Linked DNA regions of Homo sapiens. The protein of the gene in region 1 interacts with the protein of each later gene in a pairwise test. Each region holds a gene or a part of one and is shown in the gene's direction. Other genes may lie near its edges.

What was found.
Region 2: the proteins of CCDC6 (region 1) and SH3RF1 interact in a two-hybrid assay, tested with the Homo sapiens proteins (one large-scale study listed by BioGRID).
Region 3: the proteins of CCDC6 (region 1) and WAC interact in a two-hybrid assay, tested with the Homo sapiens proteins (one large-scale study listed by BioGRID).
Region 4: the proteins of CCDC6 (region 1) and ZNF354C interact in a two-hybrid assay, tested with the Homo sapiens proteins (one large-scale study listed by BioGRID).
Region 5: the proteins of CCDC6 (region 1) and CCDC33 interact in a two-hybrid assay, tested with the Homo sapiens proteins (one large-scale study listed by BioGRID).

Annotation. Positions count from the first base shown.
Region 1 is NC_000010.11:59,816,057-59,819,556, reverse strand, and holds part of CCDC6 (coiled-coil domain-containing protein 6), read left to right. Parts: intron 1-3,500.
Region 2 is NC_000004.12:169,092,418-169,098,687, reverse strand, and holds the end of SH3RF1 (E3 ubiquitin-protein ligase SH3RF1), read left to right. Parts: intron 1-2,000; coding exon 2,001-2,169; 3' UTR 2,170-4,429; downstream 4,430-6,270. UniProt on the Homo sapiens protein: Has E3 ubiquitin-protein ligase activity. In the absence of an external substrate, it can catalyze self-ubiquitination. Stimulates ubiquitination of potassium channel KCNJ1, enhancing it's dynamin-dependent and clathrin-independent endocytosis.
Region 3 is NC_000010.11:28,611,509-28,618,179, forward strand, and holds part of WAC (WW domain-containing adapter protein with coiled-coil), read left to right. Parts: intron 1-265; coding exon 266-414; intron 415-3,058; coding exon 3,059-3,177; intron 3,178-4,664; coding exon 4,665-4,854; intron 4,855-6,148; coding exon 6,149-6,276; intron 6,277-6,671.
Region 4 is NC_000005.10:179,068,984-179,075,654, forward strand, and holds part of ZNF354C (zinc finger protein 354C), read left to right. Parts: intron 1-6,671. UniProt on the Homo sapiens protein: Transcriptional repressor that inhibits endothelial angiogenic sprouting. Suppresses osteogenic effects of RUNX2 and may be involved in osteoblastic differentiation.
Region 5 is NC_000015.10:74,328,718-74,335,046, forward strand, and holds part of CCDC33 (coiled-coil domain-containing protein 33), read left to right. Parts: intron 1-1,471; coding exon 1,472-1,637; intron 1,638-1,945; coding exon 1,946-2,034; intron 2,035-2,263; coding exon 2,264-2,395; intron 2,396-2,485; coding exon 2,486-2,579; intron 2,580-3,961; coding exon 3,962-4,128; intron 4,129-4,503; coding exon of another isoform or gene 4,504-4,605; intron 4,606-5,163; coding exon 5,164-5,250; intron 5,251-6,257; coding exon 6,258-6,329.

The DNA of each region.
Region 1 (3,500 bases):
GTTTTAATTGGCGGAACTGTTATGTTCACTTTGGCTCTAAGTATATAGGATTTGGAATTAGGTGGGCAGGAAGTGGTGGGGAAACTGATAAAGAACTTCAGGGGAAATTAACCAAGGGACTCAATATGATTTCCTCTAACTTCTCTGCTCTTTAATGTCAGCCAGAGCTCCTCAACAATGCTGAAAAGTTGAGATTTTTAAAACTGAAAAAACAAGAGGCCCTGCTCTTTTCAGGGTTAAAGATAATATAGAGTCCTGTAGCACTGCCAGCCTATGTAATGAAATACAGTAAGTCCTCACTTAACATTGTCAGTATAGTTCTTGGAAACTGACTTTAAGTGAAACAACATATATGAAAATCAATTTTACCAGAAGCTGATTGATATAAACAAGAGTTAAGTTCCTATGACATATTTCTGGTCACAAAAACATTATCACACTTCTAAATAAAGACCCAACATACTTCTGATATTAAATATTGAAACAAATATGAGTTATGCATATATTAAAGATTAATGAAAACCGTATAATTACCCCATTTTTAGTGAATCAGTGAGTGATGGTCATAGTAGTGATGTGTTAAATCAAGGGATAAATGTTTGCAAAGTAAAAATTGTAAGGAGCACCTCCTCCCAACTCACAGTTCAAAAGCAAATAGTAACAATTACAGCGGCTTGCTGAATACTTGCATACTGCATCATTGATTTTCATGTGTTTGTATGATTAGCATATACTTTATGAATTTGTATTTTACAATAATTTGTACTCATTCATTTTCTAACGTGCTTATTCCAGTTCAGATCAAGGGTGGCTGGAGCCTGTCCTGGCAGCTCAGGGCACAAAGCAGGACCCAATCCTGGATGGGGCACCAACTCATTGTAGGACACACTCATACACACACTCTTACTCACTCCAGAGGGACTATGTAGACATGCCGATTGCACATCTTTGGGACATGGAAGTAAACTCGAGTATCTGGAGAAAACCCACACAGACATAAGGAGAACATGTGAACCCTACATAGACAGAGGCCCCACTGAGAATCTGCTTCCCCCCCCCCCGTCAACATTATAATAAAAGGACGTTGAACATTCAAGGACCTACTGTACTTGAGAATCCACACGGCTGAGCTGGGGCTTCCTGTGTTGCCTGCATCATGGAAATAAATTAGTAGAGCAAATTGGGACAGCAAACCCAAGTTTCACACTCAGGGTGCCCACGTTTGCTGAGGTGGGCAGTAGATTGATAGCTGGTAACTCTACCAACAGATGCCAGGAAGGAGCCGAGATTCACGTAGAGCTCCAACCCATGTTTCCTGATCTCGTCTGTTTCCAAAATCGCTCATAGACTCCCTAAACTGTCCTTATTTCCCTGGCATCAGCTACCCCCAACTCTGCTACTCCCAAGTATTGTTGGCAAAGGAGATAGGCCCACAAACCACAGCTTGATTTGCCCTAAATCCATGTTTCCCTCAAGTTCCTCTGTACTTGCTGGTTGGACAGGACCCAGCAATTTTGGCTGCCATGGTGACCGATATCCGTTCCTATCTTGGTGGCATGACTGCCTGAGTCATGTCATCTTGCAGGCTAGTGGTTTCCTCAGCTTTAAAATGATGATTTGCCATGCTGCTTCTGGCTCTAAATGCGTGTGACGGAACTAGCCCCGACTGAAGACAGCTACTGTCTTGACATTGGGCAGGGAATGACAGAATGGATAGGCCAGAAAGGGACCACAGGCATCATCCAGGCCAAACTTCTCATTTCATAGATGAGGGCATCGGAGCTACAGCAGCTGAGTGACCTGCTCAGAGTCACATGCCTCATTAGTTACATATGGGTAAAGACAGCTTTGTCTTGATTTTGCTTCTCAGAGTTATTGATTAGTATTATGAGTATTTACTCTAAAAGTAATTGAGTATGCATTTCTCCACTAGACATCATACCGCAAAATGATGCCTGCTTGAATTTTTTTCTTGCTTATCAACTACCTCTACCTCCTATGATGCTTTTAAACACTGGAATTGGGATCCTTAAAGGTAAATGCCTCATAGTTATTTGTTTAAATAAACATAATTCTGAGGCTGGGGGCAGTGGCTCACACCTGTAATCTCAACACTTTGGGAGGCCTAGACAGAGGATTGCTTGAGGCCAGGAATTCAAGACCAGCCTGGGCAACGTAGCAAGAACTCATCTCTACAAAAAATAAAAAATTAACCAGGTGTGGTGGTGTGTGCCTGTAGTCCCAGCCACTTGGGAGGCTGAAGCAGGAGGAATGCCTGAGCCCAGTGGGTTAAGGCTACAGTGATCCATGATCGTGCCACTGCACTCCAGCCTGGGCAACAGAGCGAGACCTTGTCTCAAGAAAAGAAAAGAAATGACTGTGGATTGTACTTCAAAGCTTGGCCAAAGTGTATGATGAATGCAGAGAATCACAAGGTTTAATAGGAGTCATATAAGGGTCCCACAATTTCTCATTGTTGCTGCAGGTAGGAATTGTTTAACATTCTGAGGAGCATTTGCACGTTAGTGGGGTCCCAACTTTGCGGCACAATATATTTGACTTATTTTGACACCCTGCACCTCCTCCTTTTTGCCCTTGAACTGTTCTTCAGAATCAAATTCTGCCATGCAAAAACAACATATTTTGAAGCTCTGTTTCCAGTTTGCTACATAATCATGGCTTATTCACTTGTCAAATAAGCCCTCTAATATATATTGATGGCCTATAAGGTGCCAGATGTTATTCTAGATACTGAGGATGTACTAAGGAATGAAACAGACAAGACAAGTCCCTTGTAGGACTTACATTGTGGAGGGCTGGAACAGAAATAGAACGGATATCCAGATATAGTGATTATCATAGCCAAAAAGTGTTGAGTGCTTTCTAAGTGCCCATTAGTTATCAATGGTTTACCTAGATTTACAAATGTAATGCTCACTGTAATCCAATGAGCCAGACATTATTTTTGTCCCTTACTTTGCAAATGGTAAAATTATATCTAGTAATTTTCTCAACATTTTCTAACTAGTGATTGATGGAGCTGGGATTTGAACCTAGGCATTTGGCTCAAAGTCTATGATCATAAGACAGAAGTGTAATTACAGGAGTCTCCCCCCAATGCATTGGCTGCTGTTTTGTGACTGTACCTGTTTGTAGGAAATATTTTAAATATTCAAATGGCCAGTTGTTTCTACAGCTATTTTTATGGCTTTGAGAGGAGAAAAGAAAAGCCTAGAGCTGTGTCGTCACAGGAGAGTTTTTCCCATCTGTTTGAGACCTCCTTTTTTTCTCTAAACTTAGAACATAATGATATCATTATCCTTATATCATTTCCTCTCAGGTCTTGATTGTTCAGGTTCTGAGGCAGCTGATTTTATGCATATTCATTCTGGCTCAGATGTGGAACAAGTAGCTGCTCACCTTCATTGGCTGTCCTGTGCTCCTGTGTGAATATGGGCAAGTCTTTTGCTCTCTGTGAGCTCCTTAAGGACCTTGGGTGG
Region 2 (6,270 bases), on another chromosome or scaffold:
GATCAAACCCCAGCCTTGTGGTCTATGAATATTCATGTTTGAATTAGCTGAACCTTTCTCAGATATGATAAGCCAACTTCTGTGCTGTGCTTTTGCTTCAGATCTTGGGTAGTAATTTGGTCCCTGTGCCAAAGGAGCTCAGGTTGTTCAAGCAGCCACTTACCTTTTGCAGAGATGTGTTTTTTTAGTGTAATAGTCTGGGACTCTTGCTGTGGTCTTTCTTAAATGGATTTTGGTTTATATGGAATGGGAATTGGTGAAAGGGGCAGGCTGTAATAGGTTTCAGAAGTTTGGGGACAGTTGTATAGAATTTGTTCTGCCTATCATTTTGAAGCCATAATATTTTTCACTTTCAGTCAGGAGTGGGTCCCACGAGGCTATACACTCATTTTCTGACTTTGAGAACCAAATGAAAGTAGAAACCCAAAATCAACTTTATGACTGACTACTCATTACTTAGCATCAAACAGTGAAAGATGTATTTATTAGATATCTGTTGCCATGTAACCAGTTACGCCCAAAAGTCAGTGGCTTAAAACAATAATAAGCATGTATTATTTCACACTTTCTGTGGGTCACATAATTATGGAACAGCTCATCTGGTTGGTTCTGGCTTAGAGTATTTCTTGAGATTGTAGTCAAGACATCAGCCTGAGCTGATGCTCAACTGGGGCTGGAGGATCCCCTTCTAAGATGGCTTATTCACATCACTTTTTCTGGTTAGTTTAGGCTTTTGGAAAGAGGCCTCAGTGCCTTACCATGTGTTTCCTCTCCATAGAGATGTTGAGTGTCCTCACAACATGGCAGCCAGTTTTCCTGAGTGACCGATCCAAGAGAAAGTAAAGTGGAAGCCATAATGCCTTTTATGATCTAGCCTCAGAAATCACCCACTGTCATTTCTGCAACATTTTATTGGCCACACAGGTCATCCTGTGCATCATAGGAGGAGACTACACAAGAGTGTGAATACCAGGAAGCAAGGATCACTAGGGCCATCTTGGAGGTTGGCTACCATACACCACCATTCTTTTCCCCCCTTTTGTTGAGAAGAGGAGTAATGCAAATAATGCTGGAAAAATAGAGAAAGATAAAAGGATATAGAGTGTAAAACAAGTCACCTCCCTCTCGTTTCCTACAAGCTGTAATTCTGCACAGGAAGGCTAAGGAGCATGGAGGCAGGGGCACAGATAATATTAAACCAACTAAGCTTCTGCCATTTTTAAGCGATAATGACACCTTTCCCACTAACTCCAAATTCTGAGCCAAGGAGAAACAGACCCAAATGTCAGAATAATAGAGATGAGAATGTCAACCTCGTTACTGGTAATGTTGGATTGAACTTGTGGCCATAGCCCTCCCCTCCATGTCTGGACCTTGGGACTACCTTCCCAAGGGATAATCTGGGTATGTGGGGCAGATTACCTTCCTCAGAATTGCTGCCTCGCCCATGTCAAACACCAGTGTAAGGGACGTAGGGACACAGAGACAGACTTCCAGACTCACCTTCCTGACCTCTGTGTGCTTACAACATAGAGGTGGAGCAGAGCCTCCTTAGCCTGTGGGCAGGCGGTTCAGAGAGGACTGAACCCCCCCTGCTCAGCTACTTCTCCCAGTCTCACCAATCAAATAAATTCACTCCTGTTTCCTTGGAGAAGAGGGAGGGATAGAAATGATACCCCTCTCGGGAAATGAAATGAAACTCTCCTTTATGGCCAAGATACAAACACTGGTAGGGAACAAGGATGGCTGTCCTTGTTAAGGTCACTCAGATGAACCAGTCTGGGCCATCAGTAGTGGGTTGACACACATATCCAAATCCAGTCTTTGTTAGTACTAAGTCTCTACTAAACAGAAAATAGCAGTATTTTGAGTTGTTTTACAATCATAAATGAATTAATGTTATTTCCTATTTATGTTGAAGGTTCGTGCAGACTAACAGTACACCATTTTTTAAAATCACTGCTTTGAATCGCCTTAACCAAAATCTCTTTCTTTTCTAGGCACAGGGTGGTGGTTTCCTATCCTCCTCAGAGTGAGGCAGAACTTGAACTTAAAGAAGGAGATATTGTGTTTGTTCATAAAAAACGAGAGGATGGCTGGTTCAAAGGCACATTACAACGTAATGGGAAAACTGGCCTTTTCCCAGGAAGCTTTGTGGAAAACATATGAGGAGACTGACACTGAAGAAGCTTAAAATCACTTCACACAACAAAGTAGCACAAAGCAGTTTAACAGAAAGAGCACATTTGTGGACTTCCAGATGGTCAGGAGATGAGCAAAGGATTGGTATGTGACTCTGATGCCCCAGCACAGTTACCCCAGCGAGCAGAATGAAGAAGATGTTTGTGTGGGTTTTGTTAGTCTGGATTCGGATGTATAAGGTGTGCCTTGTACTGTCTGATTTACTACACAGAGAAACTTTTTTTTTTTTTTAAGATATATGACTAAAATGGACAATTGTTTACAAGGCTTAACTAATTTATTTGCTTTTTTAAACTTGAACTTTTCGTATAATAGATACGTTCTTTGGATTATGATTTTAAGAAATTATTAATTTATGAAATGATAGGTAAGGAGAAGCTGGATTATCTCCTGTTGAGAGCAAGAGATTCGTTTTGACATAGAGTGAATGCATTTTCCCCTCTCCTCCTCCCTGCTACCATTATATTTTGGGGTTATGTTTTGCTTCTTTAAGATAGAAATCCCAGTTCTCTAATTTGGTTTTCTTCTTTGGGAAACCAAACATACAAATGAATCAGTATCAATTAGGGCCTGGGGTAGAGAGACAGAAACTTGAGAGAAGAGAAGTTAGTGATTCCCTCTCTTTCTAGTTTGGTAGGAATCACCCTGAAGACCTAGTCCTCAATTTAATTGTGTGGGTTTTTAATTTTCCTAGAATGAAGTGACTGAAACAATGAGAAAGAATACAGCACAACCCTTGAACAAAATGTATTTAGAAATATATTTAGTTTTATAGCAGAAGCAGCTCAATTGTTTGGTTGGAAAGTAGGGGAAATTGAAGTTGTAGTCACTGTCTGAGAATGGCTATGAAGCGTCATTTCACATTTTACCCCAACTGACCTGCATGCCCAGGACACAAGTAAAACATTTGTGAGATAGTGGTGGTAAGTGATGCACTCGTGTTAAGTCAAAGGCTATAAGAAACACTGTGAAAAGTTCATATTCATCCATTGTGATTCTTTCCCCACGTCTTGCATGTATTACTGGATTCCCACAGTAATATAGACTGTGCATGGTGTGTATATTTCATTGCGATTTCCTGTTAAGATGAGTTTGTACTCAGAATTGACCAATTCAGGAGGTGTAAAAATAAACAGTGTTCTCTTCTCTACCCCAAAGCCACTACTGACCAAGGTCTCTTCAGTGCACTCGCTCCCTCTCTGGCTAAGGCATGCATTAGCCACTACACAAGTCATTAGTGAAAGTGGTCTTTTATGTCCTCCCAGCAGACAGACATCAAGGATGAGTTAACCAGGAGACTACTCCTGTGACTGTGGAGCTCTGGAAGGCTTGGTGGGAGTGAATTTGCCCACACCTTACAATTGTGGCAGGATCCAGAAGAGCCTGTCTTTTTATATCCATTCCTTGATGTCATTGGCCTCTCCCACCGATTTCATTACGGTGCCACGCAGTCATGGATCTGGGTAGTCCGGAAAACAAAAGGAGGGAAGACAGCCTGGTAATGAATAAGATCCTTACCACAGTTTTCTCATGGGAAATACATAATAAACCCTTTCATCTTTTTTTTTTTCCTTTAAGAATTAAAACTGGGAAATAGAAACATGAACTGAAAAGTCTTGCAATGACAAGAGGTTTCATGGTCTTAAAAAGATACTTTATGTGGTTGAAGATGAAATCATTCCTAAATTAACCTTTTTTTTAAAAAAAAACAATGTATATTATGTTCCTGTGTGTTGAATTTAAAAAAAAAATACTTTACTTGGATATTCATGTAATATATAAAGGTTTGGTGAAATGAACTTTAGTTAGGAAAAAGCTGGCATCAGCTTTCATCTGTGTAAGTTGACACCAATGTGTCATAATATTCTTTATTTTGGGAAATTAGTGTATTTTATAAAAATTTTAAAAAGAAAAAAGACTACTACAGGTTAAGATAATTTTTTTACCTGTCTTTTCTCCATATTTTAAGCTATGTGATTGAAGTACCTCTGTTCATAGTTTCCTGGTATAAAGTTGGTTAAAATTTCATCTGTTAATAGATCATTAGGTAATATAATGTATGGGTTTTCTATTGGTTTTTTGCAGACAGTAGAGGGAGATTTTGTAACAAGGGCTTGTTACACAGTGATATGGTAATGATAAAATTGCGATTTATCACTCCTTTTCATGTTAATAATTTGAGGACTGGATAAAAGGTTTCAAGATTAAAATTTGATGTTCAAACCTTTGTATGTCCCTTGTGTCAGTCCTTAAAATTTTGCTTTTTAAAAAAACAAAACAAAACAAAAAACACGGGACACATTTGACCTAATTTGTACCTCACAAAAATTCTTTGCATACATCTCAAGCGGAAGATGTCTACAGGAATCAATTTGGTGATTATGACACATTTTACCTCTGCAACTAACAAACCTTGTTTATTTCTCCAAGAAGCTTAAAAAGAGTTTGTGGAGTCGCACGAGGTCATGTATGGCACTTGTGTTCCCCTCTTCCTCTTCCAGTTACTAAAATAATCTGGTGAGTGCTAGTTGTCTTAGCCATAGAAGGAAAAGCAGACCTATCAACCAATAGTATGATAACCCGTAAGTCTCAGCATGGCTTGGGGACAAAATCTTTAGATTCACCATGGTTTTAATTTCCCATGAAATGAAAGGCCCATGTAAGTCATGTTAAAAACTATTTTCTTATTAACTTTTGGCTACTGTCAAATGACTTATCAGAATTGAAAATCAGGAATTCTAGGTTGTATTGTAGCTTTTCCAAAAACTATCTCTGTAGCCACCTGGGCAAGTTGATTATTACTTAGTTTCCTCCTTTTGGTGTCCCATCTACCCCACTGGGTGAGGATGAGGAGCAAAGGAGATAATCTCACTGTTTTTGAAAAGTGCTATTTTAATGTGTGGCATTAAGTTTATCTCTGGTTTCAAATATTCATCTCACTCTCTTGGAGTATATGATATAATGCTTTTCAGGGTCTGATTGGTTTTAGAAGGAACAAATTAAGGTGATGTTTCCAACTGCTATGCATTTAACTTTCTGTTCCTATAATAGAACATATTTGCATACCTCCAGAAGAACATTCAATTCTCTGAATATTTCAATCCAGAGCTATAAACAACATTAGAATTCGGCTTTGGAAATTGTGTTTAATAGATGTTTGACTAAGTTTAATAGATGTTTGACTAAGTTTAATAGATGTTTGACTAACAACTCTTTGTGTGTATTCATCAAATTTTTAAAAATGTGTTTTGAATCAAACTATGTCATTATCAATGTCACATCCTATTTAAATTACTTTTTTTCCAGGAAAAATAATTAGCAGCCTACCAAAATCAATAAGATATTTATAAGAGATTAGTCATGTCCAGGCAAAGGGGTGTAGCCCTCGCTAACTCCCTGTGGCTGCAGGCTGTAATGGGGTATGCTGGGGAACTTTGCCCTGTCCATTAGTATCACCAGAGGCAGGAAGGAGCTATTAGAGTGAGTAGTCACCTGCCAATGTGAACAGCGACAGTTTTAAAATACCTTCTCTCAGGTTTACAGATGAACATCCCTTGGATTCCTTTTGTGTTTCCTACTAATAAATTTCTGATTTGGCTACTTTTCCATTTCAGAAACACCACCTGCATCTCACTCAGTGCAAATTCTTACTGTACTATGGCCATCCAGGCTCTGTAACCATGCTGCAGGCACCTGCGAGTGGCATTAATCTTTGAGTCCCATTCAATACTATTATAGAGTCAGACTATTCTAATAAGTCTCCAAAGATAATGGAATTATCCCAGCCAGTAACCAGTGAGCCAGCTGCCACTTCTATTGCCTACACCTTAGATACGAAATTTGGTTCCAAGAGGTCTCTGACCTTGGGGTTGAATCTTTCAAGCTCTGAATCCTTGTGAAAGTACTAGAAGAAGCCATGATAGACTTTGGCATGAGAGGGCATTCCTAAATATGATTCAAAATTTAGAAACTGTAAAAAAAAGAAAACCTTGATAAATTGTACAAAATATCAAAATAGTTACATGACAAAACACCATAATCAAAGTCAAAAGAATAAACAATGAAATA
Region 3 (6,671 bases), about 31 Mb from region 1:
GTTCAGGCCTAGCTTCCTGTTCCAGCCACATAAAGGAGAGTGGGCCACACTGGGTGTGCTTACCTCTGAACACACAGCTCACTTAGTCAGTGTGGCCCAGTGAGAAGGTCAGATTCTGATTTATTCCAATAAGTGTTCTCTGGGTAATATGGGGGTGGGGGGGTTTAGAGTAATACAAATATCTTTGCCACATATATTACAAAGGACTTTAGTTTTTTGTTTTGTTTTGTTTTTCTTTAAAATTAATTGCTTCCCTCTTTTACAGCCCAGCCATCTAATCAGTCTCCGATGTCTTTAACATCTGATGCGTCATCCCCAAGATCATATGTTTCTCCAAGAATAAGCACACCTCAAACTAACACAGTCCCTATCAAACCTTTGATCAGTACTCCTCCTGTTTCATCACAGCCAAAGGTATGTCACCTTTGAGGGACATTCGGAAAAGAAACTACTTACTTTTGGAAAGTCAATAACATTTTAGAATCTGTTATAGAAAAAGCCCTCTGAGAATGAGGTGTAGTGGTGGAATGAATGACAGGTATGATAGTAGATGCAGCCTAGAATTTCTCAGTTCACTGAGGGATAGAGGGGGGCTTTGAATCTGTGCTACTTTAATAAACCATCTGAGTCTGTTCCCTAATGGTTTTGGGATTTGTCACATGGAGAGTGAGATAAAGAGGATATACTGAGTCTTAATATTTGTAGAATTTTCAAACTCCAAAAGACATGAATGAACATGTTTTCCAGTGACTTTTCCATATTTGTATTTCAAAAATGAGGCAGTTTCTGTGCTAAGAACTTAATGTATGTTTAGCTTTCACATCGTGAGAATCACTTGCTTTATTTAATAGATGAGAAAATCAAACTCTCAGTTAAGTTTTTGTGGTAGAGTCAGAATTTGAAACCTAGGTGTTTGTGAATACAGGGACCCATTTTACTAAGCTTATATTGCCTGTATTTGTCCCAGCAGAATCTTACATGGTTGGCTCCATAGGTGCAGTTAGAAAATTGCTGGTCTAAATGGTAAATGTAGGGGGAATTTCTTTTGAGTAGTTTTGAAACAGTGGGCTGTTTCAGACTTTTTAATGCCAAATAATTCTTTGTAAGATATTAAGCAGAAGCCCAAAAATAAAAATGCATTGAAATATAACTTGAAAGAGGTGGTTGGTCAGCTTTTAAGTCTTCCCGTTTGTTCATCCCTTCCCTACCTTGGCCATTGATCATTGCATGTTTTAGGGTCAATTTAGATTGATTTTTAAAATTCCAAGTTACAGTTGTTAGTTTATTATGCAGTTCCTTATCATTTGCCAGTATTTTAAGGAGGAAAGAATTAAAATGTGAGTTTTGGCAAAAGAGATGTTATTTTTGGAGCTTAGAACTTGTCTTCAGGGTGGCATTTTAAGAGTATAGTAAATAGTGGTTAAAAGTGAAATAAGTGGTAGTATTGGTTTTATAGTCACTTGTAAACTGAGCATTTCAACTCCTTTAAGAAGGCTGGGCGCGGTGGCTCACAGCTATAATTACAGCACTTAGGAGGCCAAGGCAGGAGGATTGAATTAGGCCCTGGGCAATATAGCAAGACCCCATCTCTACAAAAATAATTTGAAAATTTGCTGGGGGAGGCCGAGGCAGGCAGATCACTTGAGGCCTAGAGTTTGAAACAAGCCTGGCCAACAGGCAAAACCCGGTCTCTACTAAAAGTACAAAAATTATCTGGGTGTGCTGGCACAGACCTATAATCCCAGCTACTCGGGCGGCTGAGGCATGAGAATCACTTGACCTGGGAAGTGGAGGTGCAGTTGAGCCAAGATCACGGCACTGCACTCCAGCCTGGGCAAGAGAGTGAAACTCTGAAAAACTTTCTTGGGCATGGTGATGTGCACTACTCAGGAGGCTGAGGTAGGAGAATCACCTGCGCCTGGGAATTCAAGGTTGGAGTGAGCCAAGATCACGTCACTCTGCACTTGAGAGTAGGCAACCAGACTAAGACCCTGTCTGGAAAAAAAAAATCCTTTAAGCAGGTAGCTGTTCGTTTTTTGTGTTCCAAAAACTTCTTCAAGTTGTTTTTAAAATAATTGAACATTTGAGCTTTTATGTAGTGCTTATAAAATGTTCTTTATAAGACTTGACTAGAATTGATAGGTAATATTCAGAAGTTAAGCAGGACATTCCAGATTTGTTAGGGAGAATTATTAATCATATCCCCTCACCCCACCAAAAGAAAAACAGCAGTGAGGTGTGACTTAATCACAAAGGACTCCATCTGCCTTTGTGCCTCAATTTAGAGCTTATATTTTAAACTGCTTTTCTCTATGTGGCTTCTGAATATAATACATATCCTGATTGGCAATCATGGACTTCAGTCTACCTCTGTAGAGTAACATCTCTTTGAAAAACTCTCATGTTGAACTTTATATGGGCCATAACTCATTTTCTGATAGCCCAATCACATATTTCTCCATATCATTAAAATCTAAGCATCCATATGTGTATGATGTGGTAGCATACATAATTTACTTTTATTGATATAAAAGTAACAGTAAATCAGAAGAGATAATAATGTATTGGAAAGAAAACTGAGCTGTAAAGGAGAACTAGTTACTTTTTTTTTTTTTGAGACGGAGTCTCGTTCTGTCGCCCAGGCGGGAGTGCTGTGGCGCGATCTCCGCTCACTGCAAGCTCCGCCTTCCGGGTTCACGCCATTCTCCTGCCTCAGCCTCCCGAGTAGCTGGGACTACAGGCGCCCGCCACTGCGCCCGGCTAATTTTTTGTATTTTTAGTAGAGACGGGGTTTCACCGTGGTCTCGATCTCCTGACCTCGTGATCCGCCCGCCTCGGCCTCCCAAAGTGCTGGGATTACAGGCGTGAGCCACCGCGCCCAGCCCTAGTTTGATAGGGAAGTAATTTTATGACCTTGGGCCATTTTCACAAAGAAATGAGATCTAAGTTTCAGAACTTGACTGCCACATTTTACATGTTTCAAGACGATTACCTAGATTTTGGGGGGAGAGATGTGGATTAGATTTGGAGACCATCTCACCAGATTTTGACATTTCAGGTTAGTACTCCAGTAGTTAAGCAAGGACCAGTGTCACAGTCAGCCACACAGCAGCCTGTAACTGCTGACAAGCAGCAAGGTCATGAACCTGTCTCTCCTCGAAGTCTTCAGCGCTCAAGGTAGGTTGATATTGTATATTGAGACCACATTGTTTTATTTAATGATGGTACACTGCATTGTTTGAATATTATATCTGTAAAATAGAACTTAACCTTTAAACTCCATGAATACCCTAAAGTAGGCTTACATGTTGTAAAATTTACAAAGACAAACCTGTATACAAGAGGTAGGTTATTGTCTCTAGTAGTGAAGCCCGGGTTATTTTGAAGAAAGTGGCTCTTTAAAATTTTACACAGTGGAATATGACGGGGCTAAAGATTTGTGATACTTGTACCAGAAAGGCACACGATTTTACAATATTTGTTGGAATTACCTTACTTTTTAACCTCCTCATAGCAGTTTTGGTTTGAGTATATTGATGAAAGCCAAAGTCTGGTATCTAAAACTTGGGCCAATGTTTCCCAACTGGTATATGTCAGGCTTTCCCAATAGCTTAACTGTGACCCTATACGGATGGCTTTTTAGATAGTTCTATACTGCTGTATTGTGTTAGCACTTTTCTTTGTTCATTAACAACACAACTTTAAATGACATTTGTTGAATGAATGGTTTTCATTTGATTGATTTTCCTGTTTTTTATTTCATGCTATGAGGTAGCAAAATAATTCAACTGTTGTTTTTATTGTTGTTTTCTAAACAAGCATTTCAGAACTTACACCTCCAAATGAGAGTTGTTCCCTTCAAAATAATGACCTTGGGAAGCTGTCTACTTACTCCAGCAATGTTGCCATTGCTCTGAACATTTTTGGGAAATTCTTCTTTTAAATTGTTTTTAGAGGCTGCAGTATTATTTTAAATATCCTCAGTGATGAAAACTCTTCATCCTTTGGGAGATTTAGTTTTTGGAAATAACTGAAATTCATTCAGAGCCAAGTCTGGTGAAGCAGGTAGGAGATCAACTTGGGTGATTAAATTTTTTGGTTCTCACCACCATATCCCCAACCCTGGCCCAAACCATTCAGTTTTAAAAGAAGATAAAGAATCTCAGAGTGTTATTTTTTTGGTTTTGTTTTGCCACTGTGCTTGTTCAGTGCTATCCAATAAAATGTCTGTATTTTGCTTCACATTATTTCACCCTCTGATTCAGCAGTTCTGACGTTGAACAAAGGCAATATATATTTTCCCCTTATCTAGATGTGTATGAGCAGTCTTCAGATGTGCATCTACAGCTGTTAAAATGTGACTTTTTTTAGTTATATTATTAGTGTTTGTGGTACACAAAGTTAACAGGTTCTGCTCTCAGATTTGGAGAGTAGTTTACATTTGACTCTGACAGTAGTGTTAAAAGGGTTTTTTCCCCCTAAAGTGTTTTGAGGAATCATATACTTTGGATTATTAATTCTCTTTATTTGACATTAAAATAACAAATTTTTCTTAGGAATTTGGATATCTTTAAGTTAATAAAAGGTATTAACATGCAGTTTCTAGGATAAGGATACCCAGAAACTACTTTTAAACATACTACACATTCAATTCTGTTTTCTAGTAGCCAGAGAAGTCCATCACCTGGTCCCAATCATACTTCTAATAGTAGTAATGCATCAAATGCAACAGTTGTACCACAGAATTCTTCTGCCCGATCCACGTGTTCATTAACGCCTGCACTAGCAGCACACTTCAGTGAAAATCTCATAAAACACGTTCAAGGATGGCCTGCAGATCATGCAGAGAAGCAGGTATGTTATGTACAGCCTAGATTTTACCTTTGGATGATTAGCAAAACAGAATTTAATCAACTTCTAGAGAATCTAATGTGACCACTGAATTCAAGCAATATTTAAAATAATGAATCTCTAACTTTGTAGTCATTTAAAAAATATTTGATATATAAGATAACTTTTCTGGTTTTACAAAATATTTTAACATAATTATAGGCACTGTTGTCAAGTACTCAGCAGTTAGCTCAGTGCTTAATGCCTTATATTTATTTTCTCTACTTCTTAAAACAGCTAAGCAGTGTAGATAGAGTTGAAGTCCTTAAGACCAAATAGTGCATAAGACCTTGATCCCAGGGTCACCCAGTTAACAGTGATGTGGCTCAAAGCCAGTGTACTTTTTCCACTCAGCTTCTCTGATAGTTTCAGATTCCATTAGCACTGTTAATCTACTGGCCAAGCGCAGTGGCTCATACCTGTAATCCCAACACTTTGGGAGGCCAAGGCAGGTGGATCACTTGAGGCCAGCCAGGAGTTCGAGACCAGTCTGACCAACATGGTGAAACCCCATCTCTAACCACAAGTATAAAAATTAGCCAGGCATGGTGGCATGCACCTGTAATTACAGCTACTCGGGAGCCTGAGGCACCAGAATTACGTGAACCCAGGAGGCAGAAGTTGCAGTGAGCCGAGATTGCACCACTGTACTCCAGCCTGGGTGACACAGTGAGACTCTGTCTCAAAAAAACAAAAAAAAACCCCACTTAATTTTCTATGACTCTCTCACTAGACTAGCAACTGGAAGTTAGGAAACATTTTTGCTTTGGGATGAGAGACCTTAGGACATTCCAGTTACTGCCATTTGCCTCTTGCTTTTTATCAGATAACTGACCATCTGGGGTGTTCGAAAGTTTACAGAGAATATGTTGTGTGTCTTACGATAGAGGAGTATAGTGAGGCTCTTGAATCAATATCTAATACCTGAACTTGCAGAAATGACAATCTCTTTGGCTGACCCAGCATCTTTTATTAACCACAAATTATGAGTCCTTTCTTAGTGCTGTATTAGCTTCAGGTTGGAAATCCTATTTTCTCCAACTTAGAAGAGAAATATTAAAATAAGTACCTTCCACCCTTAGAGACAGTTTCTTAAAACAAATTAATTTTCCCCATTAGGTTCACCAGCATTTTTGTGTATTGAAGGGAAAAGGATTATTCTCTAATCCTAGTATAAAATTGTACTCAGAAATTTAATGTTTTATTTTGTGTATGTTAATGTTTATATTTTATGTTTTCTTCATTTCTTTAATTACAGGCATCAAGATTACGCGAAGAAGCGCATAACATGGGAACTATTCACATGTCCGAAATTTGTACTGAATTAAAAAATTTAAGATCTTTAGTCCGAGTATGTGAAATTCAAGCAACTTTGCGAGAGCAAAGGTAAGTCTTTCACTGAAATATATTTTTATGTTTCTCAGGATTATGATTCTTAAATCGAACTAAAGAATGTAAATCACATTTTATTTATGAAATGTAAAGTTCTCTTCGATACATTGATCACATTCTATCACTGCATTTTCATAAGTTAATATTTCTCGTGAAGGATAAAGCCTGTCGATTTTCTCTTAACCCATGATGAATGCTTCATTAGACTTTTCTCATAACTCCATAAGCTGCAATAATATATTACTGAAAAAATGAAATATTGACCACAACTAATTATAAATGTCCTCTCTTGCTGAGGGTGTTTCCATTGAAATTTCAGATTATTTGTCCTTGCATCATCAATAGATCCCTTGAAAAGTATAGAAAGAATTTGTCTAGCAAGTTTAGTG
Region 4 (6,671 bases), on another chromosome or scaffold:
TTAGGATCCAGCCTAAAGGCCTCATTTTAACTTAATTACCTCTTTAAAGATCTTGTTTCCAAATATTATTACATTCTGAGGCATAGGGGTGGAAGCCAAAAATAAAATTAGAAGGCCCCCTGCAGCTGTCTGAATGGACTTCCTCCTTGGCCCTTGAAATTTAACCTGAAAGACTGGTTCAGGCCGTGACAGGAAGTAGGGGTTGGACAAGCCTCATTGTACCCTCCAGCATTAATATCTACACAAACCTTAAATCTGATAAGAAACATTTACAGTCTATTCTCTCTAAAGCCTGCTACTTGGAGGTTTCATCTGCCTGACAAAACCTAGGTCTCCACAACCCGTTATCATGACCCAGACATTCCTTTCTACTGATGATAATTCTTTCAACCAACTGCCAGGCAGAATATGTTTACCAAAAATACAGAAAGTAGCAGGGCATTGTGGCACGTGCCTATAATCCCAGCTACTCAGGAGGCTGAGGCAGGAGAATCACTTGAACCTGGGAGGCAGAGGTTGCAGTGAGCCCAGACTGGCCACTGCACTCCAGCCTGGGCGACAGAGCAAGACTCCATCTCAAAAAAAAAAAAAAAAAAGAAAGGCCGGGCACGGTGGCTCACGCCTGTAATCCCAGCACTTTGGGAGGCCGAGGCGGGTGGCTCACGAGATCAGGAGATCGAGACCATCCTGGCTAACATGGCGAAACCCCGTCTCTACTAAAAAATACAAAAAATTAGCCGGGCGCGGTGGCGGGCGCCTGTAGTCCCAGCTACTCGGGAGGCTGAGGCAGGAGAATGGTGTGAACCCGGGAGGCGGAGCTTGCAGTGAGCCGAGATTGCGCCCCTGCACTCCAGCCTGGGCGACAGAGCAAGACTCTGTCTCAAAAACAAACAAACAAAAAAAACCAGATATTTACTTTTCTAGCTTTAATTATAGATAAGGTACAGGCTTGTGACCCAAGCTTGACCTACTTCAGACTTTCAGTCAGGAGCTAGAGCTACGAGGAAACAGGAAGAGAACAAAGGTCTCCAACCCCCAGTTTTGCAGACCGGTACCAGCTCCTGGTCTATTAGGAACCAGGCGGTACAGCAGGAAGTGAACAGCAGGTGAGCGAGCATTACCACCTGAGCTCTGCCGCCTGTCAGATCGGCAGCGGCATTAGATTTCATAGGAACATGAACCCTATTGTGAACTGCGCACGTGAGGGGCCCAGGTTGTGTGCTCCTTATGAGAATCTAATGCCTGTGATCTGAGATGGAACAGTTTTATCCTGAGACCATTCCCCCAACCCTCCTGTCTGTGGAAGAACTGTCTTCCACGAAACCTGTCCCTGGTGCCAAAAGGCTTGGGGGCCTCTGATATCGAGTACAGTCTGGTAATTTGTGGCAACATCAGTAACATTGAGTTTGTAGGGGAAGGAGGAGTGGCACAGCAAAAGCAGTAGCTGTCTTGTGCTGGTGAGGCTGTACCATCTACTTTTCCATGACAACAGTATTCTCACAAGTCTGGTTTCCTAGTGTGATCCTGGCTGTGGTCCGGAATGTTGCTGCCCTAGTTTCTGTTTTATTTTCCAAGCCTACTTCTGTGACTATCAGTTTCCCTGGAGCTACCTGGTCTCTTGTGTAAATGAGCCAAAGTCAGTTTCTATTGCTGGAAACCTAAAACAAACTTCACATTTCTTATAATCTTCTTATAAAGCCACCTGCCACAACCCAGATTCTCATCTTGCATTTTAAAAATACAGCTTAGACAACAAGTGTTTCTAAGTGAGAACATTATAAGCATTTTGAGTGGAGTTGTCTTTCCTTATGCAGCACTCTCTCATCCATTTCCAGATGATTAGCAGCCTTGATCGCTCTTTTTTTTTTTTTTTTTTTTTTTTTGAGACAGAGTCTTGCTCTGTTGCCCAAGCTGGAGTGTAGTGGTGCGATCTCGGCTCACTGCAAGCTCCGCCTCTCAGGTTCACGCCATTCTCCTGCCTCAGCCTCCTGAGTAGCTGGGACTACAGGCGCCTGCCACCAAGCCTGGCTAATTTTTTTTTGTATTTTTAGTAGAGACGGCATTTCACTGTGTTACCCAGGATGGTCTTGATCTCCTGACCTCGTGATCTGCCTGCCTCAGCCTCCCAAAGTGCTGGGATTACAGGCGTGAGCCACTGTGCCTGACCCTGATCTCTTTTTTTAAATGCCGGCAGGACTCCCTTAGTCACTGTGAAAAATGAAACACCCTCACACATTGCTACTCACTCTAGGGAGGTGGGAGGAGATACCACACGCTAACGAGAACAACTGGATGAGATGATTGATAAGATGTGTTTCAGGTCTGGAGTTCTAGTAGTCGGTCATTTTATCATTTCTTAATATTTAATGACTTTGCCAGGCTCATTTTTTTTTTTTTTTTTTTTACTTTTTAAAATATACTTTCAAAAAGATACATGTGCTTCCAGCTTCTGGTAATAGAGAAATAGCTCCTTTCAGACTAATTCATCTGTGGATAACTACTACACTCTGGATAAAATATAAGAAACCTTAAGGTACTGGAGAGAAATCAAAAGCAGACAGATATTAGACACCTGTGTATATTTGGAAGAAGGAATTGTCACCAGATAAATTTTCTGTTTTTTACAGCTTTTTGCCTGGGAGTAGGCCACAGTCAGCACCAACAGAATAATCAAAACTTAGTCACAAACTTGCAGTCTTACTGGTGTGAATAACCACAAGATAGAGTTTGAGGCAAACTTAGCAGTTGGAAAGTGAGAGGAGGAATCTTGGAAAGGAGAGAGGCAGAGAAGGGAAGCCCCAGATTCTGTGCACAAACTCTGCCCAAATCTCTAGCTGACCCCTGAACCATACATGCACAGGACAGACTCAAAGTAGCCCAAATAAGAACTGAACAAAGATATTTGATGCTGCCCACTAGAGAGGTGGCAGAGTTCGGAATTTGACTCCAACTAAATTAACTACCTGCTTAAAAAAGTCAGTACTCTTCAAAGGAACATAACAAAATCCAGAGTTTCTACACATTGTGTACTGTACAATTTCCAGGATAAGGTAGGCATATGAAGAAATGGGGAAGTGTAACCAAAACTCAAGAGGAAGACAATCAATAGAGACAATGACCCAGATGACCCAGATATTAGAATTCACAAAGATTTTAAAGCAACTACTATAACTGTGCTCAAGGACTTAAAGGAAAATATACATGTAAAGAATGAACTAATAGGAAATGCAAGCAGAGAAATAGAGATTGTGAAAAAAGTAATTCTAGACTATGAAGTTTTAGAACTGAAAAATAAGATACCTGAAATTGTAAAAAAAAAAAATTACTGAATAGGCTTAACTTTTGGAAATGAACATAAGGAGAAGTCAGTGACAGTTGAAGGTAGATTGACAGAAATTATCCTATCTGAAAAACAGGGAGAAAAAAGGCCCTCAGTTACCAATTAAATGATATTAAAAGGTCTAATATACATGAAATTAGAGTTCTAGAAGGAGAGGGGACAAAGAATGGACAAACTATATTAAAAGGAAATAATGGCCTAAAATTTATCAAATTTGGTAAAAAACATAAATTTACTGATTTATAACATTTGATGAATCTCAAGCAGGATAAATACAAAGGAAGTCACAGCTACACACATCATTGATCAGTGACATGCAATAGAAATATAGTGTGAACCAAGAATGCAAGCCACATACCTAATATAAAATTTTCCACCAGCTACATTAAAAAAGTAAACAGAAGCAAATAAATTAACTTTAATAATATATTTTCTTTGACCCAGTAGATCCAAATATTATTTCCACATGAAATCAATATAAAATTATTGAGATAACTTGCATATATGTTTGTGTATGTATGTATGTATATGTTGTATGTGTGTGTATGTATGTTTTTAAGTAAATAATCTGGTATGTATTTTATACAGATAACATATCGCAATTCAGAAGAGCCACATTTCATGTACTTAGTAGCCACATATAGCTAGCTGGTTTCTACCATATTGGGGAAAGTCATAGAGAAATCACAAAAAACAAAGATTTGAAAGGAGGCTGAAAAAAATTGTACTACATACAGAGAATCAATATTTGAATGACCGCTGGCTTCTCATCAGAAACAACAAAGACCAGGAAGCAATAGAATGACATTTTACATGCTGAAAGAGAGAGACAAAAAAAATCAACCCAGAATTCTATATCCAATGAAAATACTCTTCAAGAATCAAGATGAAATAAAGCCATTTTCAGGTAAAATAAAATTAAGCTAATTCATTGCCAGCAGGCCTGTACTATAAGATACACTAAAAAGGAAGTTATGTAAGTTAAAAGAAAAATATACCAGAGGGGAACTCTGATTTTAGGAAGAATGAAGAGCATTAGAAATGGTAGCTATCTGGATAAATATAAAATACTTTTTTTCCTTTCGATTTCTTTAAAGTGCAGCTGATTGCTTAAAGCAAAATAATACTATTGTATTATAGGAGGGGGTTTACAATGTAGGCAGCTATAATACAAATAACCACCATGAAGATAGAATTTATTTACATCTGGACTGGAAAAGCTCTATCTTTTTCTCTAGAAAAGCTCTATTTTTATCTCTGGGAATTCTTGGTGGTCTATTTTTTTGACTCTTGGCCAAAACAAGATAAAGGCAGCATGGTTTTTTGTTGTTGTTGTTTTTTGTTTTTTGTTTTGTTTTTGTTTCTGTTTTTTGAGACAGAGGGCTGGAGTGAAGTGGTGTGATCTTGGCTCACTGCAGCTTCCCTGGGTTCAAACAATTCTCATGTCTCAGCCTCCTGAGTAGCTGGGACAACAGGTGCATGCAACCAAGCCTGGCTAATTTTTTGTATTTTTAGTAGAGATGGGGTTTCACCATGTTGCCCAGGCTGGTCTTGAACTGCTGAGCTCAGGCAGTCCACCCACCTTGGCCTACCAAAGTGCTAGGGTTACAGGTGTGAGCCACTGAACCCAGCCATCAGCTTGTGTAAGTTTTTGTTGTTGTTGTTTTGTTTGTTTTTTCAGAAAGAGTCTCGCTCTGTCTCCCAGGCTGGAGTGCAGTGGTGTGATCTTGGGTCACTGCAACCTCTACCTCCCGGTTCAAGTGATTCTCCTGCCTCAGCCTCCCGAGTAGCTGGGACTACAGGCACGTGCCACCATGCCCAGCTAATTTTTGTATTTTTAGTAGAGATGGGGTTTCACCATGTTGGCCAGGATGGTCTCCATCTCTTGACCTCGTGATCCGCCCGCGTCAGCCTCCCAAAGTGCTGAGATTACAGGTGTGAGCCACCGCGCCTGGCTAATTTTTGTACTTTTTTTTTTTTTTTTAGTAGAGACAGGGTTTCACTGTGTTGGCCAGGAAGTTCTCGCACTCCTGACCTCAGGTGATCCGCCCACCTCTGCCTCCCAAGGGGCTGGGATTACAGGCGTGAGCCACCACACCCGGCCTGGCTTGTGTATTTTTAAGATCTCAATGCCACTGGCTACTCCTGGTAAGCTTCCTTACTGATGGCTTGCAACTGGCCTAAATGATTTGACAGGACTTGCTTGATTACATAAAAAGGCCCCTGCTGAGAGTTCCTCCTTTGAGCTCTCCCACACCAAGATTCTTCACACAGACCCAGAGTCATGGCGTGGTCTGTGCAAATAAGGGAGACAGCACATGGAGTGTCTCTTGGCTTTCTAGTGCTTCCCTGAACTCTCTTTCTCTTGCTGTGCTGTACCCTTTGCCTTTCAATAAAAACCTTGACATGAATACGCTCAGTGAAGTTTGGTAAGTGCTGTCAACTCTCTGAACTGGGAAAATCTTTGTAAAACTATAGCATAAAGAAGGGTGGTGATGTCCTATATACTTGCAAGATTCTTGCATTCTATGTGAAACGATATATTAGCTCTAAATAGGTGATGAGTAACCAAAAATGTACATTATAATTATTCGAGTAACCACTAAAAATACAAAGAGGTCTAACTACAAAGTCAACATATAAGTTAAAATAGGCCAAGTGTAGTGGTTCACACCTGTAAGTCCAGCATTTTGGGAGGCTGAGGCAGGAGGTGGATCATGAGGTCAAGAGATCAGACCATCCTGGCCAACATGGTGAAACCCCGTCTCTACAAATATACAAAAAAATTAGCCGGGTGTGGTGGTGGGCGCCTGTAGTCCCAGCTACTCGGGAGGCTGAGGCAGGAGAATGGTGTGAACCCGGGAGGCAGAGCTTGCAGTGAGCTGAGATCGCGCCACTGCACTCTAGCCTGGGCGACAGAGTGAGACTCTGTCTCAGAAAAAGAAAAAAAAAAAATAAGCTGGTGGTATGTGCCTGTAGTCCCAGCTACTCAGGAGGCTGAGGCAGGAGAATTGCTTGAACCTGGGAGGCAGAGGTTGCAATGAGCTGAGATTGCACCACTGCACTCCAGCCTGGCAACAGAGCAAGACTCCATCTCAAAAAAAAAATTATAAATAAAATAAAATAAAATAAAATGGAATTTAAGAAAATTCAAAGCAAAGGAACACACATACATACACACAATCTCCCTAACTGTAAAAAACTGTAAGCCTAATGATAGGGCATAAAGTAATAAGTGAAAGATTGCTTTTCTGCCCCTCTCCACAAATATCAAAGAATAACGAGGGTGACAGCTTGTATCCTTCCAGATAGTTGTGCATGTGTCATATAT
Region 5 (6,329 bases), on another chromosome or scaffold:
CCCTGCTCTCGAAGCCATGGCCTGCCATGCAGCAGGTGGGAGGCAGTGGCTGAGAAGGCAGGCCATATCCGCAGTCAGCATGAGGCCCAGGTGGTTGCTGGGGGCCGAGCTCTGCTTCCTGGAGGTGTGAGTCCCCACCCGTATGTACACAGCCTCCCACAGCTTCAGGAAGCCCACAGCCACAGGGGCTCAGCAAACGCAGGAGCAAACTCACTTCCCCATGCCCATTTCCTCCCCCATCCCAGCTCCCACCTGCTGTTCCTCCATCCAGACCTCTCTGGCTTCACATCGAGGTTGCAGTGAGCTATGATGGTGCCACTGCACGATCCTTTTCTATTTTGTGCTGTTCAGATTTAAGAAACTCCCTTTGTGAAACTTTATAAATAACAGTAGGGAATTTCTGCTTATAAAACAAATGCATATAAATATAGCCTATTAATTTTCATATATATATATATATACATGCACATGGGCAGGCATGATTTTTTCTCTCGATTGGGGATTGCACTGATCATTCCTTTTTGTAGCCTGCTTTTATCACTTCTCAGCGTATTGTGAAGTGTCCACATATGGAGGCCTCATGGCAGAATTGCACGGCTCTTCAGAACAGAGGCTCAAGTCCCTGCAGGCCTGGATTTCAGACCCTGGCTCTATCACTAATCAGTCTTGTAACTGAGCAAGTTACTCACCTCTCTGGGCCTTGGTTTCCGCATTGGTATAACGGAGATAATAGTACCTATCCACGCAGGTCTGATGAGAGGACTGAGGGAGGGCACATAAAAAGCTTAGAAGAAGACCTGGAACACAGTGAATGCTCAATGAGCATCAGACATTAGGATTGCTGTTGTTCCTGACCTCATGGCTGACTCCAGCCCCCAGCCCCACCTCATACCCCACATCCTGTAGCTGGATCCCAGCCTCCACTAAGCTCTAACCTGGGTCTCCCAGGGTGACCTTGGGTCCTCTGACTACTGAGCTGTTTGGAGGGCTGATGCCCAGTCACCTTCCAAGTGGCATCCAGTGGGATTTCTGAGAGGTTCTTCCCTGGGTTCTCAGTGACGTGAGGAATGAGAGGAGTTAGAAGATGGGGAAGGAGGAGGGAAAAGGTGAAGAAATAGCTATGATCGAGCCAGACCCTGCAAACCTGGCCCTGGATCTTCTCAAGTCTCCATTGCCCATAGGCCTCCTCCCCTGTGTCCACACCTGGGGTTTCCCCCTGAGTTGGTATCACAGGACGTGATGTGGCCCCGGGGAGAGAACATTAGTGTGGCTGCCCTCACATGGCCAGGATGGGTGAGGATCAAGTCATAACCACCCTTCCAGGGAGCTGCTAAGACTTAGGGCCATGGCTTGGGGCTCCTGGTGCTCACTGGCCTTGTGGGGGACCCACTGACTTTCAAGTGTAGATGTGGATGTGGGACCAGGGTTGCTATGGGGCAGTGGGCTCAGCTCTGGGCTCTGGGATCCACAGGAGATGAACAACTACCGGCGGGCCATGCAGAAGATGGCAGAGGACATCCTGTCTCTGCGGAGACAGGCCAGCATCCTGGAAGGAGAGAACCGCATACTGAGGAGCCGCCTGGCCCAGCAGGAGGAGGAAGAGGGGCAGGGCAAAGCCAGTGAGGCCCAGAACACGGGTGAGGATGTGCAGGCCACCAAGGGCACCCGGGCTTCTGCCTGGGCCCAGGCTCCAGGTTGTGCAATAGGGTGGCTGGGAGCTTCTCCCAGATGTGCATGCTGCTGGACTCTGGCAAATAGGAGCCCCTCGCCCACAGACACTCACACAGTCCCTGCCCAGCTGGGTCCTCTCAGGGATGGGAAACAGAGAATCCAGTCCCGTCCCAAGCCCTCGGGCCAAGGGATATCTGCCTTCCTGCTACTGACCATGCTGATTTGAGCTGGGAGAGGCTTCCTCCCTGAGCCAGCTCCCCAACCCACCTAACAGTGTCCATGAAGCAGAAACTGCTGCTGAGTGAGCTGGATATGAAGAAACTGAGGGACAGGGTGCAGCATTTGCAGAATGAGCTGATTCGAGTGAGCTGGGGCTTGTGGGGGCAGAGGGGAGGGAGCTATGGTGGGGGAGCATCGGGGTGAGAAGAGTCTGGGAGGAGAAGGGAGAACAGGCACAGAGGGAATGGAAGCACGGAAGAAAGGGGGACCAGCCTGGTGGAGGATTCAGCAGAGGGGCCGAGGTGGACCCTCAGGGCCAAGGTGGACTCCCAGGCACCCATTCTCTCCCCTTCTCTCCTCCCCCATCTCACAGAAGAATGATCGAGAGAAGGAGCTGCTCCTTCTGTATCAGGCCCAGCAGCCACAGGCCGCTCTGCTGAAGCAGTACCAGGGCAAGCTGCAGAAGATGAAGGCGCTGGAGGAGACTGTGCGGCACCAAGAGAAGGCAGGTGGCAGAGGGGCTGCCCCCGAGGCCAACTGATGATGGCAGAGTAGGGAGCCCCTGGGCCAGCCCAGCCTCTGCTCTGCTCTCCAGGTGATCGAGAAGATGGAGCGGGTGCTGGAGGACAGGCTGCAGGACAGGAGCAAGCCCCCTCCTCTGAACAGGCAGCAGGGAAAGCCCTACACGGGTGGGTCCACACCCTGATGTGATCAGCTCCCCAGCTTCTGCTCCACCCCTGGAGGCCCTGCCTTCCTGGAGCCTCTCAGCTTCAGGAGAACCTGCGAAGAGGTCCCCTGCACTCAGTTATGTCTGTGGGCCTGGGAGACCCAGGATTGCCCTGCTCCCCTCCTCATTCAGGCGCCCCATCCAGAGATCCCCTGAGCTCCCTCCTTCCCTGGAAGCCCCTCAGAACACAATTGGGATGCAGTGTGAGCCAGGCTAGAAAGAGGGTGGACCTCCAGAGGAGGGCCCTGCAGACTAGCACAGCAGAGAGGGCCTTCCCCTGAAGAAGGGCCACCTGGGGCAACACTTCCCAGCTCCTAGCCCCAGGATCCGTCGAATTATTTCCCCATACCGCCAAAGATTCTGCCTCTGCAAAGCAAACAAACAAAAATACTTTGATTAAATCAATGATCTGGGGCCAGGCGCAATGGTTCATGCCTGTAATCCCAGCACTTTGGGAGGCCGAGGAGGGCAGATCACTTGAGGTCAGGAGTTCAAGACCAGCCTGGCCAACATGGTGAAACCCCATCTCTACTAAAAATACAAAAATTAGCTGGGCATGGTGGCGGGCACCTATAATCCCAGCTACTTGGGAGGCTGAGGCAGGAGAATCACTTGAGCCCAGGAGGCAGAGGTTGCTGTGAGCCAAGATTGTGCCACTGTACTCCGGCCTGGGTGACAGAGGGAGACTCCGCCTCAAAATAAATAAATAAATAAATGATTTGGAGGTTTTCTTCCCCATCGATATTAACCAAAAGCCACCTAAAACTGCCAATCAGCCTCTGATAAGCAGAAAGGACCAGGTAACACCATATCAGGCCAGCCCAAAGCAAGGGATTTCCCTGAGCCTGCCTGTGCAACCTCACCCAGGGCCCCTGTGTGCCCAGCCCTGTGCTTAGCCTTCACCGCTGAGGGTCTCAGGGGCAGGAGGGTGTTTCTAGGAGCCTTTAGAATGCAATGAAAGCTGGGCTGGCCTTTCAGGAAGCCTGAGGTCATCCAGGAGTCTGGATGAGACTGAGAAGGCAACCTAGGGAGGGGAAACAGCCAGATCAAAGGCCCAGGGAGTGAGAAGAATTCCAGGATCAGAGAAGGGAGGAAGAGAGAGAGGTGAGGAGCTGAAATACACTGAAGACAAATGAGGAGTTAGAGAGAACGTTGAGGTCAGGTTCTAAAGAGCCTAGAAGGACAGCCTGTGTGCACCTGATCCCACTGGTGGTAGGGAGCCATTGAAGGCTTGGGAGTAGAGGGGAGGGGTGGCAGATTGAAGCAAAATGCTGGAGCAGATCAGGACAGGGACATGGGAAGCAGGAGAGCCCATCTCACCAACATCTGTGGCCGTGTCTCTAGGCTTCCCTATGCTCTCAGCCTCTGGCCTTCCCTTGGGTTCTATGGGAGAGAACCTGCCGGTTGAACTTTACTCGGTGCTGCTGGCAGAAAACGCGAAGCTGCGGACGGAGCTGGATAAGAACCGCCACCAGCAGGCCCCCATCATTCTGCAGCAACAGGCCCTGCCGGTAAGAGGCCCTTGACCTGGGCCTGCCTATGCCGGTCACTGGGTGCCCAGAAATCACCCATGGTACAACCCAAGTTGAAGATCAAGACCAGGAGCTAAGCTTCCCAGGGTCTCCAGTCTGCCTGGGGGCTCCTGGAATCAGCTCTCAGGCCTTGGTCTTTTTCTCCTGCGGAATGTGTGTCCCCGAACACTTCACCTTTAACCTCATCTAGCATCCCAGGAGAAAGCAAGCCCCTTGTTGACCCTTGGTCCCTGAACCCTGACCCCTTTTTCACCTGGCTGGCCTCCACCTGGACCCTACACAGGCCTCTCAAAACTCCCTTCTGGAGCATTCCCTGGTCTTGGTGCAGCCTTGGAGAGCCCTTTTCCATCCCAGGTGGACCCCGGGGAGTTGGGAGCAGGAGGAGACTTGACAGAGAGGCTACAAGAGACGCATGGCCCAGGCCACTCAGAGTGCACAGAGACCCTGCCCGCACAGGTGGGTGGCCCAGGGCCCAGAAATGCCCAGGCCCTGCTCCACCTCTGAAGATGCTTCAGGGGCCCCTTGCTTTACATAAACCCCAAAGCAGAACATTTGGAATCACAGAATATTGGGCAGGGCAGGGGCACAGGAGAGTTTTCTCTCCATCCCAGGACTCGCCGGAGGTGAGTTCTGTTGAAAGCACACCTGACTCATGGACATCCAGGTAAAGTGTGAGGGATGAGGTCAACTGCCTCACAGGTTCTTCACTTCACTCAAAGACTCCCAGTGCGTTAATTATAGGGGGCTCCCTAATGCATTTTACATTAAAAAAAATGTTGTGTCAAAACTTCGTATTCTCAAAATCTGTGTGGGAAACAGCTGTGAAAAAAGCACATGCCAGACCCTGTTCTGAACTTCCAGAAGAGGGTTCGGCCCAGGTCTGACGCTCTGCCTCGGGAGCTCAGTCTGAACTCAGGCCTGACTGGTTTCTTCCTCAATACCTTATGGTTTCCCAAGCTCACACTGCCACAGCCTCCAGCTGGGGCCAAATGTGAGTTTGTGCTTTGCCCACAGGATCTCCTCTCTGGTACTTCAGACAAGTTCAACCTCCTGGCCAAGCTGGAACACGCTCAGAGCCGGATCCTGTCCCTGGAAAGCCAGGTGGGTGAGATGCAGGAGTTGATGAGGCTGGATCAGGCTCACCACACAGCCTATAACCAGGGCTCAGTGTGTGAGCAGAGTCTAGGCTCAATCTATGACCAGGATCAAGGCTTAGTGTGTGGCCAGGGTCGGGGTTCAGTGTGCAACCAGGGTCAGGGCTCAGTGTACAACCAGGGTTAGGGTTCAGTGTGTAACCAGGGTCAGGGTTCAGTGTACAACCAGGGTTAGAGTTCAGTGTGTTACCAGGGTTAGGGTTCAATGTGCAACCAGGGTCAGGGTTCAGTGTACAACCAGGGTTAGGGTTCAGTGTGTGACCAGGGTCAGGGTTCAGTGTACAATCAGGGTCAGGGCTCAGTGTACAACCAGGGTTAGGGTTCAGTGTGTGACCAGGGTCAGGGTTCAGTGTACATCCAGGGTCAGGGTTCAGTGTGTGACCAGGGTTAGGGTTCAGTGTGTGACCAGGGTCAGGGTTCAGTGTACAACCAGGGTCAGGGTTCAGTGTGCGACCAGGGTTAGGGTTCAGTATACAACCAGGGTCAGGGTTCAGTGTGCAGCCAGGGTTAGGATTCAGTGTGTGACCAGAGTCAGCGTTCAGTGTGCAACCAGGGTCAGGGTTCCGTGTACAACGAGGTTAGGGTTCTGTGTATGACCAGGGTTAGGGTTCTGTGTATGACCAGGGTTAGGGTTCAGTGTATATCCAGGGTCAGGGTTCATTGTGTGACCAGGGTCAGGCTCTGTCTATGACCAGAATCAGGGATCAGTGTGGACTCAGGATCAGAGCTCAGTATGTTGTTGAAATGTCCATCTGTGTCTTGGTCAGGCTGCCTGACTGTTTGGCCCCCTCACCCTCACCCCGCCACCCCTGAGGTCTCGGGAAGGTGTCAAGCCCACATGGCCCAGAGCTTTGCTTTCTGCCTGGACAGCAGGCTCAGGCCCTGGTTGTCCTGGCCATCAGGGATTAGCCCTGCTGCCCATGGTCCTCCAATTGTCCCTCTCTGTGTCTGCAGTTAGAGGACTCAGCTCGACGCTGGGGACGAGAGAAGCAGGATCTGGCCACACGGCTGCAGGAGCAAGAAAAA